Regions from separate parts of the Homo sapiens genome. Here regions 2, 3 and 4 are each linked to region 1. The links come from fine-mapping of genetic effects on gene expression. A gene starts in region 1. Each other region holds a variant in brackets. All regions are shown on one strand. Distances are between the middles of the regions.

Region 1 (5,425 bases):
AAGTTGTTAGGCGGCATCTTGATTTGCAAGCTGGTTTCCTAACTTGGCAGCTTCTTGACCTTGGAAGAGACGAGTGATTCTGGAGTCTACAGCTCTGTTGCAATTTTCTGATTATGGCAGAGGCAGTGGCTCCCTTGTCAGTCCTGGTCTGTGGTAAAATTTTTGTGGAAGCTTATTTTGAAAATGATTTCTTAAGTTCTTCCAAGTGAACTATATATATACTCCTTAATAAATTCCTTTTTGCCTAGACTAACCAGAGGAGATTACGTTATCCACAACTAAGAACCTTGACCAATATATCATATAAGCTAATAGTATACAGTTATTTAAGAGAATGAGGGTGGTCTTTATGCATGATCATTGGAAGTTGGTGAGATTGTAAATAGTAAAAAACCGGATTGTAGAATAGTATGCTCAGAATATTCTCTTTTTTTGTTAAAAAAAAAAAAAAATCAATGCAGGCCAGGCGCAGTGGCTCACGCCTGTAATCCCAGCACTTTGGGAAGCCGAGGCAGGCAGATCATGAGGTCAGGAGATGGAGGCCAACATGGTGAAACCCCGTCTCTACTAAAAATACAAAAATTAGCTGGGTGTGGTCGCACGAGCCTGTAATCCCAGCTACTCAGAGAGGCTGAGGCAGGAGAATTGCTTGAACCCGGGAGGCGGAGATTGCAGTGAGCCGAGATTGCGCCACTGCACTCCAGCCTGGCAAGAGAGCCAGACTCTGTCTCAAAAAAAAAAAAAAAAAAAAATCAATGCATATGTAAAACAAGTCTTAAAGAACATTTGTTATCTGTGGAAGATAGAATTATGAAGGCGTTTTACAATATTATAGATATTTTTGCTTAGATTTTTATGATACTTCTTGTGTATTTATTGCATTGTCAAAAAATAAAAATAAACCCTTAAAAAGACAAAACTAACAACCACAGCCCAAAACAAACAAACAAGAAGTAAAATCACGCCATTCCAATGGTGGCCCTCAACATAATGAAGACTGAATTTCCTTACAGTTGAATGAGAAAGGAACTTGCGTTGAATATAAATTAGGAGAAAAGTAAAAATTTTCTCCTGCACACCAGTCTGAGGATTCATACACCCAAAGTTAATTTGTTGATATTTTAATCTATATATAATTATGAACTGTGTTTATTATGAGACTATTAAAAAAACTGCTTTCCATCAACATGTAGGTGTTTTCTTTGAATGGGATTACAAATACACCAGGGATTGACAACGTTCATATTTACTTAGCAAATAATGATCTAATCCCTGGGTCAATAGTGAAGCTGAGGAAGGAGAGGACTGTGTTTACAGGTGATGGAAGGTTGTTAGGCAGGACTCACAGTTGGATTCTAGATTTCAGGGTAGGGACTACTTACTGACTTTTCAGTCAGGCGGATCCCAAAGAACTGCTGCCTGGACGGGAATGGGAATATGGTCTGGCTGGGAGGACAGAAAGCTACAGATGAAAGAAAATGTGATATGGGTTGCAGACTCAGGGCCTTGAGCACTGTTCTTTCTCATCTTCGTGGTGGGGGATTATGGGGTGGAAATGCACTCTCCCAGTCGGATCACATCCCACTACTCACCAGCGTTATATCCCGTCGCGGCTTCACATATATTACTTACCTGGCCCGGGTGGCATTTTACTTTGCATCCTTGATTGGGAGTCTCAGGGGCTACGAACAAACGTTTTACCCCCGGGTAGCAGGCGGGTGAGGAGCGAGTATTCGCGGAGCGGGATAAGTGGGGATGTCGCTGCGCCCTCGTCCCTTCATCTCCGGGGGACGGCCACTCTCAGGGTTCCCGAGGAGCCGGCTCCGTGCACCTAGGCCCTAGGTCGGCTCCCAAGCCCGGGCCCGCCGCTACACCAGCCGTTTCTTACCCGCAGCTACAAATCTGACACAGACACCAGCTCCTCATACTCTTGGCTCCCATGCTTTCCTCCACCGCGCCTCAGCACTTGCAGCTTCTCCACTCCCACAGCGCCCGCCGTAGTCAAGGCAACAGAGGGATGCCCGGTGACAGACTCGGCGCCGGCTTCCGGCGGCGTCAGAGACGTGCGGGTGAAAGGTCGAGCGACAGCCGGCCCCGCCCCCTGGCGCGCGGGCGTGTCGGACCCGCAGAGCTCTCGGACTTTCGGAAGCTCTCGGTGTGGGTGCGACCCGAGAGAAGGAGCGGGGCTGGTGGGGCTGCTGCAGCCGGTGAGTGTGGGCTGGCGCTGGGGGCTGGAACCTCCTAGGCCAGCCTTTGGGCGGTGCCGGAGGAACCCGCTCGCTGCGGCTCTGAGGCGGGAACAGGGGCTGGGGCCGAGCGCGGGCTGGGAGCTTCGGTCCCCGGAGTGCCGCTTCCCGTCTGGGGCCGGGGCGGTCGCCTGTCTGTGTGGACCCAGGATCCTCAAAGAGAACGAATCTGGGACCCTGCAGAAATGAAGGGCATGTAGTGTAGAGGTTTTTCCTTTTTATTTAGAAAGGAATGAAAGACCGGCAGTGCACCTGCTTGGATAATAAGCACGTGACCCAAAACTTTGTTCGGGCTCCATGGGCAGGAATAAAGCTGGGTATTTGACCTCGCGCGAGGACGAGCGAGAATGTCAGAATGAGGGACTTGGGGGAAGACTGAAGAGAGAAAGGGAGCATCTTCTTCAGCATTTTCTCTCCCTCCTGGATGCAACCCTTCCTGTACGTGGTCATTGGCCTGGAGATGTTTACTGGAGTACTCCTCCACCGGCAGGGTTACTGGTGTCACTGTGCACCCAGTCCCCTCGAGCTGCGTGATTCATCGCAGCCTTTGGATCCGGAAGGATGAGCAAACTCCTTAAGTGTAATCGTGGTAGGATACTGACTTTAGTGCTCGAACTGGACTTAGGCCTTGGTGGTCTATCTCATCAATAAACATTCACTGGGTTCTTGGTTTAAGGGGTTTGAGAAGCTTGCCACCTCCCAGCGTTTATTATTATTTTTTTCTTTTGCCCCGACCTTTAGCCTCTGGGCCATTTGTAATACATATTTAATTTTTAGTCACAGGAAATAAGTAATCATGGTGCTCAACAGTTTGGATAAGATGATTCAACTCCAGAAAAACACTGCCAACATCAGGAATATTTGTGTTTTGGCTCATGTTGACCATGGTAAGAATACTTTTTAAATGGCTTATTTTGATAAATAAGGGAGATGTGTCTCTGTATGTCTCAGTGGAGTGAAGCTGTGGACAGCTGAGAGTGATGTTTGCTAAGAAGCAAGTCTTCTTTCTTTAAAAGTTTTGTGTGATGTTAGGGAAGCCTGCTTTGCTATAAAGCATTTGAAATGAACACGGTTACCTAGTGAGTAGCATTCTTCTATATATTATGTCATGTTGTTTTTTAAAGCAGAACTTGAATTTTTTGTTTTTGAAATGGCTTTACATATAAAATGTCTGTAGTCTTGACATAATGTCCTTAGAGTCTGTGGTATGTGATCCTATTTAATTCATCAGATATTTATCAAACGTCTGTTAAGTTCAAGATATTTTGCTTAGTATGTCTGAAGGTGGAGATTTATGAGTAGGGCACTAGCCCAGGGGAGGTTTTAACGGGGAGCAGAGCAAAATGAGACAAACAAGAGAAAAAAGTAGACTCTAAGGTTGGGAGAACTAGAGGATTAGGAAGTGAGGGGTTAGGAAAAGACCTCACAACATAATTAGTATTAGAGATGACACTTGAAGGGGGCTCAAGATGACAAATGGAGATAATCATTACAGGTGGGAATGTGTCATCAAGGGGAGAGGGAAATATATGTGGTCAAAGCCCAGTATATGGGAAAGGCAGAGATAGCTAACCCATGGTATGTTCTTCTGACAGATACTGCTGTAACTCCATAGCGCTCCTTCATGCTAAGCCTCCTCTTGATTTCAAACCTCTTGGTAGTTTAGGTAACCACAGCAAAGTGATTGGGATGGGCATATGAAATAAAACATATTTACCATCCTGAAGATGAAGGACCAGTTGGCGAGGTGAAGAAGCAGGCTGAGTCATATCTCATAGAGCTGCTCATGCCAGCTAGGAACTGGGATAAGAGTTGAGTGCTCCAGCTCTGGAGTTAGACAACCTAAGTTCAGATCTCCATTTTCAAGTTACATACCTTGCCTTTTTGAGCTTCAATATACAGCATCTGTAAAACAGGATGAAAACTATACCTGCTTTATAGGCTATAGGATTAAATGTGATAATAATGAGAGGGAAGGTAAACGCTTCACCATGAAAACGATCATTAATGTCTACTATTAGGCAGTAGGGAGCCTTTGGGGGAAAACATGGAGCAGGAATGATGTAATCAAATAAAACATGAGAAAGATTAGATTGGTAGACATGCTTAGGATGGATCCAAAGTCAGAGATTAGGTGGCTGTTGTCATTGATAGAAGAGCTGAAGTAATGTGAGTATGGAAACTGACAGAAAGACAGATAGTGGATCACTTACAAGTGAAGCCAGCTGTGAATGAGTTTTAGTACAAATCCAGTGAGTAACCCCTGCCTCCATGAGTTTTTATAATTTTACTGCTCACATTTTGAGAATGTGAAGGCTGATAAAAGGGTTTTTTTTTTCTTTATGAATTTATTCAAGTGGAAAGTTAGTGGGGTGTAACAAATTACTTTAAATGTATTGTTTAAAATTATGTTAAGCTGCTACTATCCTAAAAAACCTGGGATTCATCCATTCAACAAGTATTTTCTGAAGGTCTTCTATATGACAAGCGTTGTTCTGGTCCTAGGGATACTGCTGTGAATAAAGCAAAGTTCCTGCTTGCTTGATAATTATTTTCTAGGGAGGTATATACTTGGTGTACTTAGAATAAATTCAGCTTTACTGGGTAGCAGGAAAGTGATGCTCTAGGATTATATGCTAATACATATTTACATTGCAGACAGATAGCAGTGTTAAATATCTTCAGTTCTCCTACTCATTGGTCTCTGGTTTGAACAATACAGAGATTCCATAGCTTTGCTGAAGTTCCTAAAGTGCAATAAAGACTTGTCTTGAAGGAAAAAAACCCTCCTTTGCTTACTCCAACCCAGTTGTAGTAATTATGCATACCCCTGACATTCTTTACACAGAATCACCTGTTTATATCACATAAAATCTCATAGACTTTAGTTGTATGTAGTCTGCTTAATAAAAGTAACTATAAATATATTCGAAGATTCTTTTGCTTTAAAGTAGATTCCTAGGTTTAGATTTGGATACTAGGTTTCATTGGTTGTTACAGTATGTTTATGCCCTCCACATGCTATATTACAAACAGTAAGAGATATGGATAATGTTCCTGAATTTCTTTGATAAGTAAGTATTTTCTTAAGACAGTTTAGCAAATTCCAGCTGAGGCCATGCATGGGGAAATATGGCAAAAGAGTATGTTCTCTAAAGTTACTTGACAACTTTTCAGAT
Region 2 (5,788 bases), 560 kb before region 1:
TGCAATGGGCATTCAACAAATAGTTGTTGAATGAATAAATTAAAACCTTGAGATTTGCTAAATGCTTAAATCCCAAAAGAAAAAAAATATTTTTAAGAAAAATATTTAAAAGCATTTTAACTATAGCCATGGATAAGTACATAAGCACACAAAATGTAATCACTGTGTTGGTAAAAACCTTATTTCAATACCTTTATCCTTCATACAAGAATAAATCTCTGAAAGAGAAAAGAAAAGAAAGCCGCTCTGAGCGTACCTACCTTTCTACTCCGGAGAGAGGCTCTTTTGGCACAGATCCTGCCCCGTTTAGACTCCAGCTGCTGGCACTGCCTTCTGAGTTCTTTCACTTCCAAATTCTTATCATCCTGCAGCCCCACCACACAGTCAATGACTTTAAGTTCCTCTGGATTTTCACATGGATCGTAATAGACAACTTCATCTTGTTTTTCTAAAAATGTATTAATGATTGTTTAAAACATATTTTATTATTTTAAAAAATGCATTGAATTTTTTTAAATGTAAGAAAAATAAAGATCACTTGTAATCCCACCACTGAGAAGCACTATTAACATATATGAAAAATATGTGTATATGTAATATACATGCACACATGTGTATATACATGACTATATACATGTATGTAAGTAGCATGTGTGTATATCCATGTAGTGTATGCATGTATACATACATGTATATAGACATATGTGTGTATATATATATATACACACACACACACATACTACTTACATAGCTACACATATCAATGGAGTTCTAAAAGAACATTTTCCATGGGATGGAAATACATTTTTAGGCCAGGCGCAGGGGCTCACGCCTGTAATCCCAGCACTTTGGGAGGCCAAGGCAGGCGGAACACCTGAGGTCAGGAGTTCAAGACCAGCCTGGCCAACACGGCAAAACCCCGTCTCTACTAAAAATACAAAAATTAGTTAGGCACAGTGGCGCATGCCTATAATCCGAGCTACCTGGCAGGCTGAGGCAGGAGAACAGCATGAACCTGGGAGGCAGAGGTTGCAGTGAGCCAAGATCGTGCCACTGCACTCCAGCCTGGGCAACAGAGCAAGACTCCATCTCCAAAAATAAAAAAAAATTTAAAAAGATAAATTTTAATGGCAGCATAGTATTCTCTAATTTAAGCAGTCCATGTTGTTAGGCTGTTCCAATGTTCCACTATTATTCATTTCACTGTGATGAACATCCCTGTATAAATCTTTGTGTACACTTTTTATCACTTCCTTAGCAGATAAATATTTAAGGATCTTGATACCCATTGACAAATTGCCCTCCAGAAAGGCAACTTATATTCTACCAGCAATATATTATTAAGATGTCTTAGTCATATATAATCTTGATTACATATTGATTTTTTTTAAAGCCATGCTTACTGTAACAAATTCAAACCCTCCAGAAGTACATAAAACAGTGAAATTGTCTTGCTCCTTCCCCAAACCTTCTGAGTCATTCTCAGAGGAAAAACATTATGAACAATCTGGCATGCATCCTTCCAGATTAACTTCTTTTTTTAATGTAATTTTTTTCCTAAATATGTAAAATGCTTATAACCTGAAACTACTGCAAAAAATTCTGAATACTCAGGATTAAACTAAAAGTTCAGGATCTATGTGAAGAAATTTATTAAACTTGGAGGAACTTTAGGAAAAAAGATTTAAATAAATGGAGAGAGACATACCATGTTCTTGGGTAGGAAGATTCAAAATTGCAAAGACCACTATTCTCCCCAAAGTAATCTCTAATTTTAAGCAAAATCACAATCAAAATTCCAACGAGTTTTTGTTTTGAACTTGATTCTAAATTTCATCTGGAAGAATAAAGGAGTGAAAATAGTCAGAAAACTTGTGGAGAAGTAATGGGGGAGGTACTTGCCTTACCAGACCCTAAAATGTGCTTCCAAGGTACAGTCATGGGAACGGTATGGAGCCAGCAGCAGAAGCCACTCACAAACCAATGGAGGAGAACAACACAGAAACAGACCAAAGTCAATCTAATGTTTAACTTGAGAAATGTTAAACATTTAGGGAAAATGTTTTTAAAATCAGTGATTGGGACTGCTTAACAATTTGAGGGAAAGGTTCAATTCCTACGACAATCAAAATAAATTCCACCTGGACTAAAGAATTAAATGTTTTAAAAAGCAACATCATAAACATACGAAAAGAAAACATAAGCATATATTGACATAATTTTGGGATTGGAGAATATTGCCAGACATAATACTAAAAGCAGAAGCCATGGGGAAAAAAATTGATAAACGTGACTTCATAAAAATTAAATATTTCTGAAAGGCAAGAAAACACAAATGACAAGGAGAGATTATTTGCAACATATGACAGACAATAGAGGATATTATTTTTAATGTGGAAAGGAAATATTCCAAAGAAAAATGGACAAAGACTATGAATAGGCATTTCATAAAATAAGTACAAATGGCTCGTAAACATACAAAATTTTGTTCAATATTCACTCATAATTAAATAAATGAAAATTGGAAGACTGCCATTTTCTCTGTCAAGTAAGCAAAAATGCAAAAGAATGGCATGAGTCTGGGAAACATACACACTCATATTCTGCTGATGGGAGCATCTTTTTTCTTTTTTTTTTTTTTTTTTTTTTTTGAGACAGAGTCTTACACTCTGCCGCCCAGGCTGGAGTGCAGTGGCACCATCTCGGCTCACTGCAATCTCCACCTCCCAGGTTCAAGCGATTCTCCTGCCTCAGCCTCACAGGTAGCTGGGATTACAGGCGCCTACCATCATGCCCAGCTAATTTTTGTATTTTTAGTAGAGACAGGGTTTCAACATGTCGGCCAAGCTGGTCTTGAACTCCTGACCTCAAGTGATCTGCCCCACTCAGCCTCCCAAAGTGCTGAAATTACAGGTGTGAGCCACCACACCCAGCCTGGGAGCATCATTTTAAATGTACAACCTATCTAGAGGGTCATTATGTAGCATGAAATTTAGAAATCAGAAAATAATATGGAGGTGAGGAAAAATGTATCTCAGATGATTATTGTACTGTTATGTATCAAAATGTAAAATATACATTGCCCTTGACCCAATAATTCCATCCTTAGAAATTTATTCCAAGGAAATAATCTGTCCTATACTCAAAGACATGTGTAAAGTTCACTACACTACTGTTCAAAACACCTGAAATTTGGAAATCATGGTATATCCATATAATGGAATACTATGCAGCCATTAAAATTTTGATACTTTTATTATTCACTGAAATAGAAAGACAGTTATGTATTAAATGAAAAAGAGACTATTATGCATTATATGCCTATGTCAAAATATCTCATGTAACCCATAAAAATATATATCTACTATGCACCCATAAAAATTAAAAATTGTTTAAAAAGATGTTACTGAACTGGTTATATATTTTGGTTAAAAATTTATATTTTTATATATCAGCATATTTTAAAATCTACAAAGTTATACAGCAAATTGTTACCA[C/A]GAAGTATCTTTTTTTTTTTTTCCTTTTCAAGATGGAGTCTCGCCCTGTTGTCCAGGCTAGAGTGGAGTGGCACGATCTTGGCTCACTGAAACTTCCACCTCCCAGGTTCAAGCCATTCTCCTGCCTCAGCCTCCCAAGCAGCTGGGATTACAGGCACGTGCCACCACACTGGACTTTGTGTTTTTAGTAGAGACAGGGTTTAGTATTTTTGTATTTTTAGTAGAGATGGGGTTTCACCATGTTGGCCAGACTGGTCTGGAACTCCTAATCTCAAGTGATCTGCCCGCCTCGGCCTCCCACAGTGCTGGGATTATAGGCGTGAGCCACTGTGCCCAGCCAACCACTAAGCATCTCTAGATGATGGGATTGGGGTAATAATCATTTTTCTTTCTTTGTTTTGCTATGTGTTAACAATGAATATATTATTTGAATAATAAACCACTGAAGGAAAACTTTAGGAAATTTTCAGATGTTATAATTTACAAAAAGTAATTGATAATATGGTCTGTATTTCCTTAAATTTATAATTTAAACATTGCAATCTATATACTTAAATTTTACCTTTTATAAGTCTTTTAAGAGAGTCCAACTGTGTAGTAAGCAGTATTTCTTCGTTTTTTAATATCTCAAATTTAACTTCATATAGTTCTAATTGAATTTCATAAAATTGTATTTCTAATTCATCTACAACATTTGTATTTTTTTCTTGTTCTGGAAGATCTTCCATCTTATTTTCATAGAAAAAAGAAAAATAAGTTAAAATAAATTAGTATATTAAAAACAAACTTTAGAAGCATTCTAGCTATTTTCTATTCCTTGTTCAGTACTAAATATAACAAAGCAAATAGGAAAGAAACACTTTTTCATTTCATCTAGTGATGCAAATACTTTATCTCATCCTTGAAACAGAGGAAAACATTTAGGTTCTGAGAAACATAAATGGCAATGAGGTATTATTATGTACTGCATATTGGTGTCCCCCCAAAAATTCGTATGTTGACACTCTAACTCCCAGTGTGATGTTATTTGGAGGTGGGTCCTTTGGAAGTAATTAAGTTCAGATTATGTCAAAAGGATAGCACCCCCATCATGGGATTAGTGCCTTTATTAGAAGAGAAAGAGAGGGATCACTTTCTTTCTAAACATACACACAGAAGAAAGGCTATATGAGCACTCAGTTAAGAAGGCAGCTGTCTACCAGACAGGAAGAGGATCCTCACCGGACAGTGAATCTGCAGGCACCTTGATCTTGGACTTTCCAGCCTCCAGAACTGTGAGAAATACATGTCCGTTGTTTAAGCCACCCAATCTGTGATATTTAATCTTGTTATAGAAGCCTGAGCCAACTAAGACAGGTGTTTACAGTGTTTTCTGCTTTAAAGTCATAAGATTATAGGAAAAAATTTAAGTGACTATGCAGTGAAGTATCTCTTTGATTATTTTAAAGTTGTAGTGAAAACATTGCTGGGTTGATTTTCAAGTACAGTACCCATTTCAATACTGAGCTTGGTATTACTATAAAGTGAAACCTACAATATGGTATTTTGAAACATCTTAACCAAAGGAAAACTTTATGTCTAACCTTCCACAGAAGATGGTGTTGGAATAAGCGAAGAAAAGAAGCTCTTTAACGATGCCTGGAAAGAAAAGTGCTATCTAAAAATAAAAGTGTGCTTTACCACATGGTCTCACTTATAAGTGGGAGCTAAGTAATGTGTATACACAGTGTGGAATAATACACACTGGAGACTCAGAAGAGTAAGAGGGTGGGAGGGGGGATGAGAAATATTTAATAGGTACAATTACATTATACAGGTGATGATTACACTAAAAGCCCAAACTTCACCACTACACAATATATCCATGGAACAAAAACTGCACTTGTATCCTTTATTTATACAAAATGTTTTAAAAATAAAAGTGTATTTTTAAAACAAAGTTATGTTTATCTTTGTCTTACCTTTCCCTGAATTTCAGCTCTTTTGTGATTTAAACACAACTCTTTCGCTCTCATGAGTTGCAGAGTCTCTCGAGCTAGCATTAGCTGAAGTTTTTCCAACCTGGGAATTGCTGTGGCCCAGGCAGCCTGACCAAATCTCTTCGCATCCTGTTCCATTTCTTTCTGCATTCCTGTTGGATTATAAAAATAAAATATAATTACACCTCATTAAAAAGGGAAACATTTATCATGAGCTAATCCTTTTTTTATTGCCTCCATACTACCTGCAGAATATCCTTTTTAAAAGAAATTTTATTAACTTTTTTATTATGATAAAAATAATACATGTTC
Region 3 (5,788 bases), 400 kb before region 1:
GGCCTTCTTGAACAGCCTGTAATTCCTGCACATCCTGGCTAGATGAGGTGGGGGTCTTGGTGGTGCACACAGGATGCCACAATCCACAGGGAATGGCCCCTTGGGGTGGAGAAGGGTAATGAATTATTATAGGCAAATCCTGCAGTGTTGAGGTGGTGGGCCAGCCCCTTCCTGTGTTGGTTGTTAACATGCAGTTAAGGCTGTGGACAGATGGATCCAAATACCAAACAGTTCTTTCTAGAACTAGGCAAGGACTTGAAGGAGGGAGTCTGTGATCAGCCAGCTGGGAAATCTGTGGAGGAAGACATTGTCCAAACCAAAAGAGGGATCAGCAGCCTCTTGATAATTGACTATGTTGGTAAGGGCATCCACTAGCCCTGGCCATTTAGATGGTGTCTGGCCAAGAGAGGGGCAGGTTGGTGATGAAATCTGTTGTGATGGCATCTTATTTTCATATTTTTAAGTCTATTCTATTAGCGGTGCATGGGATTGGGATTGCTTATCTGTGACTATAACAGTATCGCAGGTGCTGCTTTGCTGGAAGGGACTGAGCTGAAGAGGGCCTGTGGGCCAGATTGGAGGTAGGAATGTGGAATCATAGTGGCTCTCTAGAGTGGTGTGGGGCAATTCTGCCAAAGCAGCTGCTCAGACTCTGGGTCAGCATCTGAGGGGCTTTGCCCCTTATGGACATCTGCTTGATGTCCCTGCCAGATTAGCTGGGTTAACCATGTCCAAGGCTACACGTAACAGTATGTCACCATAAACCTCAGGAAGAACAGAGTCAGTTCCAGGCTCCCTCCTGCCGGCCCCTGATGCCCTTGGGCATTCTGCTTGTTGACCACTTGGTGGTTTTGATCTTGGTCACAAGTGATGGAAACATGGAGACCTGGGCCAGGGCAGGCTCCTTATGTCAGCAGGTAGGCAGTGAAGGGAAGCAGATGGGGTGCAGCTCCAGCAGATGCAGGCCTAGGTGCAGTACTGATGGGCTCCTTGGCCTGGGAAAAGCCCCTTAATGATCCTGCTTCTTTTCTGTAAAATGGGGGCAATAATGCCTACTTCTCAGAAGGCTTGGGGAGATTAGATGAGCTAGTGTGGAGCACCTAGCACAGAGTTGGTGCCAGAAGGCACTTGATAAGTGATGGCTGCTACCGCTGTTGCCATGTTAAGGCAGGTTAGATTAGGCCAAGATCATGGCAGAAATGGAGATATTTTAGGTCTGCAGTTGTAGCTTCCCTGACTGCAGACTGTGAACCCTACATGACCTTGGCAAATGCATGGGCAGCTGCAGTTTGCCCTGATGTCATTAGAAGCTTCCAGGGAAGGATAAAGACCTCTGAGACCCCTGGGCTGCTCAGAATCTACTAAATGGGTGGATAGGGCATGAGGGTGGCCCCTGCCAAAGGGACCCCTGTTTATCTGCCCTGTCTTTTTGTTGTCTAATTCCCCCTGGGTGGTGGAGCCTGGAAACTGTGAGGTCCAGCAGAGCATTCCATACTTCCACATACCCTGCTGCCCTAGAGTAAAGAGGCTGGACAGGCCTGGAGTGGTAGGGACCACAAATCTAGGGAAGAATGGAGTCCAGAGCCAGGAGTGGGGAAAGTCCAAAAGGAAAACCTCTTTTGTTGGCCCAAGGCAGTTGTCAAAGTTGGGATCATCAGGAGGCATGTCCAGAGAGATGAGAGAAAATTCTGAGCCCAGAACAAGGGCAGGTGGGGAGGGACAGCTGGGTGGAAGCGCCGGTCCTAAGCAGGGAGAGGAGACGTTCTGCCTGAAAGTGTCGGCTTAAAGAATCTGTTTCTGAGCCTCCTGTGTCCCCATCCCCCCGTCAGCTGACCCACCTCTTCCTGTTCCTCCAGACCAAGCTGCTGACCCAGTATGTGCTGAGTCTGGCCAAATATGACCAGAACTATGATATTCGCGACCGGGCGCGCTTCACCCGGCAGCTCATCGTCCCTTCCGAGCAGGGTGGGGCCCTCAGCCGCCATGCCAAGAAGCTCTTCCTGGCACCCAAACCAGCTCCAGTCTTGGAGTCATCCTTCAAAGGTGGGAGCTGAAATCAAGGGTAACCTTCCTAGGGGAATGGAAAGGAACTGGCCAGAGTCTCTGCCCCAGACCTTCCTGAGGCCCCTAGCCAGGCACCAGGCTTCTGTGGACAGTCCTGCTCCCTGGCTCACTCCTTTTGTCCCTCCTGTGGCACCAGGAATTACTCTTTCACCCTCCCATAACCACTGCCAGCATCATCTCACCTGAGGGTCTGCCTTCCTGGCCAGGATGGACTTGTGCCTCCTCTCCTCTCAGGCTCCCTTTTCCATCTCCCTCCCTGAGCAGACACTAGGCTTTGGAATACATACCAAGATCTTAAATACCAAGGACCCAGGAAGGCAGAAAGCAAAACAACACACAAAGGAGAGGTGTATATTTTTATAAAGGTCCTGAGAAAGCAGTTGCCTGCATTCTGTGAGCTTAGTCACTACAGTCAGTCCAAATCCCAGGCCCCAGGGCTTCAGCCTTGCCTCTGTTCCTGGGCTTGGCCCTTAAGGCCTCTTTTCCCAAGACAACGGCCTTGAGATGGGCCTGGGAGGGAAGGGTCCTCCCGCTGCTTCTCCGGGCCCCAGGAGTGGAAGCCAGGAACCTACACAGAAGAGAGCCTCCTTCACAAAGCTCAGTTCTTCTGGGTATCTTTTC[G/A]TTCTTTTTCTCTTCCCTGGACCTCACGAATGGGGAGATTCTGAGGGTGGGCACAGCTTTGAAATTCTCCCAGGAAGAAGGCAACAGTCCCTTTCTCCCCGACACCATCCTCACTCACAGGCCTGTGCTGCCCTCCTCCAGCAGTGCCTCAACTCTGATCCAGACTTCTACACACTCATGCTCTGACTGTTCATCCCTCCCTGCTGAGTCCAGAGCCTGACTAGACGTGCATGCTGAGCAGACAGGTCGGCAGCATCTGTGGGCCCAGAGTCTCCTCCTGCCCACCTCTGTAGGCTGCCTTTCCCTGGCCCTCAGTCCCTGCTCTGGCCTGGCCAGACAGCCTTTTCTTCCAGCATGTGGGCCTAAAGGTGCAGTCAGGGTGGAAGAGCCATTAGGGCACACATCCATCTCCTTCCCCTACCCACCTGGGAAGTCCCAACCAGAATCACCACCCAGCCCCACCTGGAAAACAGCTCCCAGAGCTTTCCCTCACTGCTGCTACCTGCCTGACCTCTAAACCTATCCCTAGACCGGGACCACTTCCAGCTGGGCTCACTGTCCCACCTGCTTAATGCCAAGGCCACAGGCTACCAGGAGCTCCCAGACTGGCCGGAGGAAGCCCCAGACCCATCTGTGCGCAACGTGGAGGTCAGCGGGGTGGAGGGTTGAAGTGTGTGTGTGTGTGTGTGTGTGTGTGTGTGTGTGTGTGTGTGTGTGTGTGTGTGTGTTGGTGGGGGCAGACAGTAGGGAGCCCTGGCAGTGCCGGCCCAGCCCTCCTAACACCCTCCCCCACACACACAGGAAGAAGATCTCTCCCTTATTGAGACTCACGTGGGCCTGTTGGGCGAATACACTGAGGTCCCACCTTCGTGTGACGTGTGCTCTCTCCCCTGCCCTGTCTGTGTCCCTCTTCTTCCCCTGTGTGTTGTGCTCCTGGGCCTTCCCATACTCTGTTTCCACCTTGGTTTGGCAGTGCTCCTCTGTGAGCAGCATTCCCTCCCCTCCATGGACAGTGCCCCTTTCTTCCTCCTCTGTTATTCCCTTTGTGGGACAGACCAGGTAGGGCCTCACAAAGAGGTGGAATAAAGGGTAAGGGCTTGTGCCTGCCTGCCTTCTCCCCAACCATGATGAAATGACCCTGCACCCTACCCCCATCTCCAGGTACCTGAATGGACCAAGTGCTCAAATCGGGAGAAGAGAAAGGAGAAGGAAAAACCCTTCTACTCGGACTCTGAGGGGGAGTCAGGCCCCACGGAGTCCGCAGACAGTGGTGAGCAGATGGCAGAGCTGGGGTCCTCTGTGCTCTGCCCATGCATCTGTGTGACTGACTATATGAGGGGTATATGTATATGGTTGTGTGTCTAGGGGTGTGCACCTGCTTGTGAATTGTTTGTGCACCTGAGGGATTCATGTTCCAGGTGTGTGTGCTTGTGCAGGTTTCTATCCATGGAGTCCATCTGTGTTTCTGTCAGTTCCAGCTGGCATGTAGGGCTGGGGGCAGGTCAGAGAGGTTTGAGGGTTCAGTACTGAATGTGAAGGTGGAACCCAGGTGTCTGCTCCAGACCCAAGGAGGCCTGCATATGAGGGAGGAGGCCTCATATTGTTCCTCCACAGACCCTGAGTCTGAGAGTGAATCGGACAGTAAGAGCAGCAGTGAGAGCGGCTCTGGGGAGTCCAGCAGTGAGTCCGACAATGAAGACCAGGATGAGGATGAGGAGAAAGGGAGAGGCAGTGAGAGGTGAGAAGGGAGCTAGCCAGATGGCTGGTGGGGTTCAGGGGGCTTTCCTGGAAAGAGGGCTAGCATTGAGCTTTAGCCAGTCTCCTAAGAGCCCCTGAGCCCCTCGTGAGCTGGGTGGGGCTGTCAGCTCACATGACGCCTACTTTCGCTGGCTGCAGGAGATCTCTGAGGCCTCATGGGCTGGTGTGGAGAAGCAACCAGAGTCCTAGAGCCTGAGCTGGCACAAGCTGGCTTCAAGCTCTCACGGGGTCCCTGCTATAGGACCTCAGGTGTGAACCCTCCTGGCTCAGGCTCCCCACACCACTCCAGCTTTTCAGCATTTCTCCTGCTTCTGTGAAGCAAGGAGGGAGTGTCCAGGCCAGGCCTGAGCCAACCTTTCCCACTCCTTCAGTGAACAGAGTGAGGAGGATGGTAAGAGGAAGACAAAGAAGAAGGTGCCAGAGAGAAAAGGAGAAGCGTCATCCTCTGATGAGGGCAGCGATTCCAGCAGTAGCTCATCAGAGTCCGAGATGACATCGGAGTCCGAGGAGGAGCAGTTAGAACCTGCCTCCTGGAGCAGGAAAACAGTGAGAGCCTTGGGGCAGAGTCAGGGTGTGCTCATGGGCCAGGGCCCTCCCCAACCTCTGGGCCAGGCCCAGACATCTATCTCCCTACCATCCAGAACAGAACATGACATCTTCTACCCAACCCAGAACATGCCAAGGTGCTCCCCTTCCCCACACCCACATCCCATTTTTCTCTTTCAGCCTCCCAGCAGCAAAAGTGCTCCTGCAACCAAGGAGATCTCCCTGCTTGATCTAGAGGATTGTGAGTTTGGGTGGTAAAAGTCACAGGGGAAAGGAGGCCTGGGGAGCATGAATTAGAACAGCCCATAGGGACTCTGGATCGGGTTCCTCAGGTCTTGTGGGAGCAGGGGAGCAGACAGAACATATCTTCAGGCCTGAGAGGGCAGCAGGGCTGACCTCCCCAGGTCTGGGGTTGAGGTCTAGGAATGGGTATTTTGCGAGAGCCTCCAGGCAGCCATGTGCCCCGCTGTCCATGGTGCTGAAATGCGTGCTCCTTGATCCCTAGGCTCCCTGCTCAACCCAAGCCACCTCCACTTTGCCTCCTCATAGTCTTATCTACTCCCACAGTCACCCCTCCCAGTGTCCAGCCTGTGTCTCCCCCAGCAATTGTGTCTACCAGTCTGGCTGCTGACCTGGAGGGCCTGACACTCACAGACTCCACCCTGGTACCGTCGGTGAGTGGGATGGAGGAGGGGACCGGGCTGGGGCAGGGACACATCCCTGTGCTGCATCCTATGGTGTGGATGTGTGTGGGGGGTGGGTGTGATGGAGGATGTGATAGCTTTGAGTCCCAGCTGCT
Region 4 (5,788 bases), 37 kb after region 1:
ATAAGTAGATGATTTAGATGTTTGTGTTAGATAACTGTTTCATTTCAAGGTCACCTGTAGCCAACCTGCTAAGCTCTGTTCTCATTTGTTTCATGGGCCTCAGTGTTAAAGTATCTGTCATGAGGATCCTTTCTGAGCTTTAAGGAGTTTGTGAACTCCCTGAAATTGTATGCATGTTTTGAGATGTGATGCATAAAGCAGTGTTGCCTTGTAGCACAGGCATTTTCTGTATGGACAGACTTTGTTACCTCAATATTTAGTGCATACAGTGAATCTTCGCCTTGGTGGGAGGCACTGGCTCAAGGTTTTCAGTCCTTAACAATAGACTTCAGCTATGGTGTGTCAGAAACTTCCTAGTCCCCTTGATATTACAGCTGAGAGAGTGGAGAGACTGATGTGCACAGGATCACAAACTTTTGACTCTTTTCCACCAGAAACTCAAGCACTGAAAGCAGGTGAGGAAAGATGGACCTGTTGGAATATACCATGTCATTGACTGTCCTCCATCCAGGCTGCTCTAGACCAGTTTGCTGAACGCTAGTTTGCTAAATGGCCAATTTGCCAAATGTCCACTTCCACAGATGAACAGTTTCACAAATGACCATTTCACCAGTTTTGCCTCCCACCCTCACCCCAAAGGTTTTCTTGTTACAGCCATTTTGCTCAGGCAGTAGGGTGAGACCAGCGACTTGTACACATGCTCCTCGTGAGAAAAGAAGCTCCCATTCTGGGCTTTGTAGGTTCCATGAAATTTGTCTCCACGTATTTTCTTATCTCTAATTCTTTTCCTCCAGTTCTATTGGTTTTGTAACCCTGCCCCCAAACCACTACACTGTTATTCTTGGCATCACTATTGACTTTCGGTTCATTAAATCTAATGGCCAGTTTTCAGTCTTCACAGGACTAGATCTGTCACTAGCATTTGACGCAATTGATCACTCCTCCTTGAAACACTTTCGTCCCTTGACTTTTAGGCTTCCATTGCTTTCATTCCCTTGCTTCTGCTTTTCTTCGTGTCTCCCTGGCTGCTTATCCTTAATATCTCTTTTTGTGATTCCTCCCCATCTCCCTGGCTTTTTAACTTTGGGGTGCCTCAAGCAAGGTTCAAGTCTTTGATCCTCATCTGTTTTATCTGTAGTCCCTCTTTTGATAATTGTACCCAATCTCAAGACTTTAAATGACAGCTACATACTCATAATTCCCACGATTATGTGTCTTCAGAGCATGTCTGTTTTCTGGACTCTGGACTGATATCTAGAACTCCCTCTACACTGTGTTGTCTAAGAAGCATCTCAACTGAACATATCCCCAACTGGACTTTTTATCTTATCCCCAAGCCTGCTCACCTAGTCATTCCCATCTCAGTTAGGGAGACCTCAATCTTTTCATTTACTCAGTCCAAAAACCTTGGAGTCATCTATGGCCCTTATATTTATCTCACACTCCAACATCCAGTCCATCAGCAAATCCTGTTTATTCTTCCTTTGAAATACAGAATTCAACTATTTCCCAATGTTTTCACTTCCTGGCCAACATGGTGAAACTCCGTCTCTACTAAAAATACAAAAACTAACTGGGCGTGGTGGTACACGCTTGTAGTCCCTGCTACTCGGGAGGCTGAGGCAGGAGGATCGCTTGAACCTGGGAGGCGGAGGTTGCAGTGAGCCGAGATAACGCCACTGCACTCCAGCCTGGGCGACGGAACAAGACTCCATCTGAAAAAACAAACAAACAAACAACAACAACAACAATGAAACAACTAGTATCCCTGCTTCTGCTCTTGATTCCTGTTAGTGTTTTCTCAACTATTGCAGACAAAACAGAGTGATCCTCTTAAGATATAAATCAGGGCATGTCATTCTGTTCCTCATTCAAAGCTTCCACTGGCAAGACTTCTGATACATGTTTGATTCTTACTTCCTGTGGTTTTCTTTTTTCTTGTTTGTATTTTACTGTTGAATTCTTTATATATAAATTATTTTAACGTGAGGTGATGGAATTGTTTTAAAAAAATTCATTAATCAATGTTTTTTTACCTCCAGTATAGGTTAAGGAAAATGTTCATATGTTAATATGAAATTGCATTAAAATTTGTGTATTTAGGGAGAATTGGTATCTTAATAGTATTGAATCTTAATTTATTTCTAAGAATTTGTTAATATCATAATACAGTATTTTTGTCCATTTTATTTTCTAACTTGTTATTGTGGGGGATTGGGAAAGCTATTGATTTTTATGTATCTTATTAACAAGCTACCTTGTTGATTGTTGGCCTTTGGTAACATTCCTCAATTCTATTTTCTATACTTGATACAGTGAAAAATGTATTAGTGCTTATGGTAGGTGGTTAACCTCATTGCATAGCTTTAGCTTTCATATGAGATCCCTCACCCTGTCAAATTTGCTTGCTTTTCTTTTCTTATTTCTGCCAACTGTTTGCTCTTGCTCTGCTATTCTTTCCTAGCAATCTTACCCTTTTCTAATTAAAATTTTTATCATAGTTGGAAAAAGTTATGGACTTCTGGTGTATTTTGATGATGCCATCCATGTTCTAAACATTTTAATTGTTTTCCAGAAAAATCTGTTTTTTTTTTTTAATAATGGGAAAAATAGTGACATTTTTACTTCCTATTTGTTTAGCTTTTATGAAATGTGGAAGTGAGGACACTGCTCCAGTTATTATATTTGTTTCCAAAATGTTTGCAGTTGATGCTAAGGCCTTGCCTCAGAATAAGCCAAGGTAAGGGAAAGGGGAAAGTTGGGCTGGGCTAGGAATATGGTGTATGTTTGGTGGGATGCAGTTGGGCTGTGGGTAGGGGGGGCACGGATAATGCTTTTCCTCCTCAACCCAGAATTCATATCAAGCCAACCCCCAGGGTAACATACAATTTATACAGTAGTATATCCTTTTGTGATACCTCTGTAGGAGAAAGTTGTTGAAATCAGCTCTGGAATATTGAATTGAAGTGATGTAAG[T/A]TTGAAGAGTATGTTAGCAGTAGTAGCAACAATTAACTTTTATTAAACATGTCAGGCAAGTTCTAATCTAAGTCTGCCTTGTCTCATCTAATTCTGCCTACCTCAGTAGAGATTATGAATGTATGAGGATCTCTGCTTCCCTGTGTGTATTATGTGTGCACAGGTGTGATAGGTGTAGGAGAGGGATATTCCTCAAGTTCCAGAGTCTTGGGGAATCTGTGTCTTCTACATTTCCTGTTTTTTATGTGTGTTCCCCTCCTTCTGTCTCTGCTGCTTTCCCCACTAGTTTAGATTCTGATCATCTCTTGTGGATATTGTTGCAGCAACCTCCTAGCTGGTTCTCCTGCCCCATCTTTAGTTCCACTGATCCACTTGCCATTCTTTCTTTAGAGTGATCTTTATAAGACTCAGCTATGAAGATATGTCTCTTGCTCAAAAACCCTTAATGATCCTCACTGTCTTGAGCAGTTTTGATTCAAGTGTAAAGTGTTGGCGATGATTTCAGTGGTACTTAGGGAAACAAGTTTTAATATAATTAGTTGTCATATTTATTTTAATGTGTATTTGTGTGTATTGCCTGTGTATGTCAAGTGATAAAGCCTTTACCATGATGAGATTTTAAAGTTTTATTGAGTTAAAAATGTTTGTGCATTTAAATAAGTATTAAATAATAATATGCAGATATAGCAGAAATCATGAAAATGATATGTGAGTGACTGAAGGTCAGATCATCAGCCCGTGAAATAAACTTGACCTGTCTTAGTGGCATTTCTGACCCACCATGACCTGACCCCAAACCATGTTTCGACTAGATTTTTATTTCTGTTTCTCTAATATACTAGTGTCTGAACAAATGTCCTATCTGTACTTGTGCTGTTCCTCCATCTGAGAAGGCTTCTTTTCCTCTGATAAAATTCTGTTTGTCCTTCAGGGGAAAGGTTATGCTTTGTTTTTTAGTACTTCCCTAGTGATTTGGACATTAAGTGTATTCAATAATTTTTGTCCTGGGGATAAGTAAAGGAATAGATGGGTGAGTAAATGAAGAATGAATGAGTGAATATCCAAATGGGGGAATAACAGGTCAGTGAATGGGTGAATGAGTGGCTAACTGAGTAAGTAAGTGAGTGAATAATGGAATGAATGAATGTCTAATTATGTATCTAGGCTACTCCCAGATAATATTTCAGTGCTACATGTAGTAACAATTTCTTGTAGTAACAAATGTAGGATATTGGATGTTTTTTGGCCATTGGGAGTATCTGAGAGATTCTGGTAGAATCATAGGGAATATCAGAGAATTGGAAAACTTGCTGTTAAGATTTGAAATACATGTATTTATAGCATTTAAAATTCCTAGCTCTACCCATCCTTCATTTCTTGCTGATGAATAATAGTATTATTATGCCTCTACTGTTAATTACATTTTCTGTGAATGTTTTTCCTAATAATTCATCATATGCTTTTCTGATTTTAGTATATTTCTGATAGTGCAATCCATTCTATTCCATGAAGTTTTTTTACTGATTTTATTTTTGTCATTGTTTTTTAACCAGTATATCAGGTTCAACAATTGTTACATAATAATATAGTGTTTTCAGGTATACCTGGGCAAGGTCATCACCATTACTTTGTTCTTTTCCATCTTCTAGCTGATTTTTTTTTTTCATTTAAGTTTTATTTTTTAAATTTGGGAAAATGTACCATTGGAAGTTGGTTTGATAGCATTTTCATCTCCATTGTATTAGACATACAAGCCAGGAATAGCAGAGTATTATTTTCCTTTAGTATAGAGTACAATGTATTAGTGATATGTGCCAGGGAGAAAAGTAAGGCAGGAAACAGGATTCGGCGCCCACAAAGCCTAAAAAATTTTTTCCCTAACTTAGTGAAGACACTGACCTTTACTCACTGCTCAACAGTGCCACTGTGGTTGTAAATGAAGTGTGGGACTGTTACAGGACTTTCTCCTCTGTTCTTGTGTTCTTGCCTCTTTTCTTTGCTTCTTCAAATTCACCTTCCAACCTGACATTTGAATCTTCGGTCAACATTCTCACCTCTGGTCTCCTTCATCTCAGTATTAGTAACTATTGCCCCTTCAAGAAGTAACATCCATGGTTAGTTTAACTATAGCCTAAATAACTTAACACTCACAACTGTTTCCTCACTAGTAGGGCCCCATTTTCTTGTAATTAAATTTCTTTGTTCTCAACAAATGCTGGATACACAGTGGGTACTTTTTACACATCCTTGCTGATTACTATCTGCTTTGTTCCCCGCTACCATCATTCCCAGTGCCCAGCAGTGTGTGGCACACAGTAGTTGTTAACTGGATGGATGGATAGATACATAGATAGACAGCAGGCATCTATACAGTTGATGCTTACTTAATGACTGTACATGCTGATTATTCCAGATCACTTCATGAACTTAGACAGATGAGGATTTAATCTGCAAGTGAACAAATACACTTCTTTTTTCACTAAAACTAAAGTGAAATCACATTTACATAAGATGACAATTTTATCTTTAATTCCTCTTGAAGGAAAGACATAACCTGGTGATAATGAGCATAGACTTCAGAGCCATACAGATCTGGATTTGAATTATGGCTCCTCCATTTAATATCTGTGTGACTTTGGGTCGAGTTACTTAAGTTTCCAGTCTCCCTTTTCTTATATGTAGAATAGGAATACGATATCTACTTCATTTAATTGTTGTGATAAATTATGTGCTATAATATATGTAAAGTGATTAACAGTCTCTGGATCATAGTGATAAACCTGTTGGAAGAGACCATTTCTCTTTAGATGCT

Alleles and levels. Alleles are on the strand shown, and positions count from the first base shown. SD is a standard deviation of normalised expression in the study named. Not every link is listed here.
For the expression in rectum of the gene that starts at base 2,087 in region 1, C is the low allele of the variant in region 2 and A is the other (large effect, 0.92 SD a copy in CEDAR).
With allele G in place of A in region 3, the expression in unexposed skin of the gene that starts at base 2,087 in region 1 is lower (small effect, 0.35 SD a copy in GTEx).

The links. PIP is the estimated chance that this variant, and not a neighbour inherited with it, causes the effect. A credible set is the group of variants that fine-mapping cannot tell apart.
Region 2: its variant is the best candidate, but not a certain one, in a credible set for the expression of EFL1 in rectum (CEDAR, PIP 0.51).
Region 3: its variant is the best candidate, but not a certain one, in a credible set for the expression of EFL1 in unexposed skin (GTEx, PIP 0.82).
Region 4: its variant is the best candidate, but not a certain one, in a credible set for the expression of EFL1 in lung (TOPMed, PIP 0.54).

Annotation. Positions count from the first base shown.
Region 1 is chr15:82,259,396-82,264,820 of GRCh38, reverse strand. EFL1 (elongation factor like GTPase 1) reads left to right here and starts at 2,087. Exons shown (of 20, transcript NM_024580.6): 1 at 2,087-2,207; 2 at 3,024-3,133. The coding sequence starts at 3,043. SAXO2 (stabilizer of axonemal microtubules 2) reads right to left here and starts at 2,003. Exons shown (of 4, transcript NM_001348699.2): 1 at 1,889-2,003. The coding sequence starts at 1,941. RefSeq lists enhancers at 1,783-1,852, 1,873-1,962 and a silencer at 3,971-4,157.
Region 2 is chr15:82,817,760-82,823,547 of GRCh38, reverse strand. WHAMM (WASP homolog associated with actin, golgi membranes and microtubules) reads right to left here. Exons shown (of 10, transcript NM_001080435.3): 4 at 5,459-5,628; 5 at 4,060-4,225; 6 at 261-448. Among named protein-coding and RNA genes, the nearest start is that of WHAMM, 11 kb to the right of the region's middle. The variant C/A (reference allele first, on the strand shown) is at 3,498.
Region 3 is chr15:82,663,002-82,668,789 of GRCh38, reverse strand. It overlaps AP3B2 (adaptor related protein complex 3 subunit beta 2), which reads left to right. Exons shown (of 27, transcript NM_001278512.2): 15 at 1,857-2,043; 16 at 3,215-3,333; 17 at 3,487-3,543; 18 at 3,847-3,955; 19 at 4,300-4,423; 20 at 4,815-4,989; 21 at 5,170-5,230; 22 at 5,557-5,663. The region is part of intron 3 of CPEB1-AS1 (CPEB1 antisense RNA 1); the gene reads right to left. Among named protein-coding and RNA genes, the nearest start is that of CPEB1-AS1, 18 kb to the right of the region's middle. RefSeq lists silencers at 5,376-5,576, 5,319-5,613. The variant G/A (reference allele first, on the strand shown) is at 2,686.
Region 4 is chr15:82,222,117-82,227,904 of GRCh38, reverse strand. EFL1 (elongation factor like GTPase 1) reads left to right here. Exons shown (of 20, transcript NM_024580.6): 11 at 333-455; 12 at 2,641-2,740. Among named protein-coding and RNA genes, the nearest start is that of EFL1, 38 kb to the left of the region's middle. The variant T/A (reference allele first, on the strand shown) is at 2,977.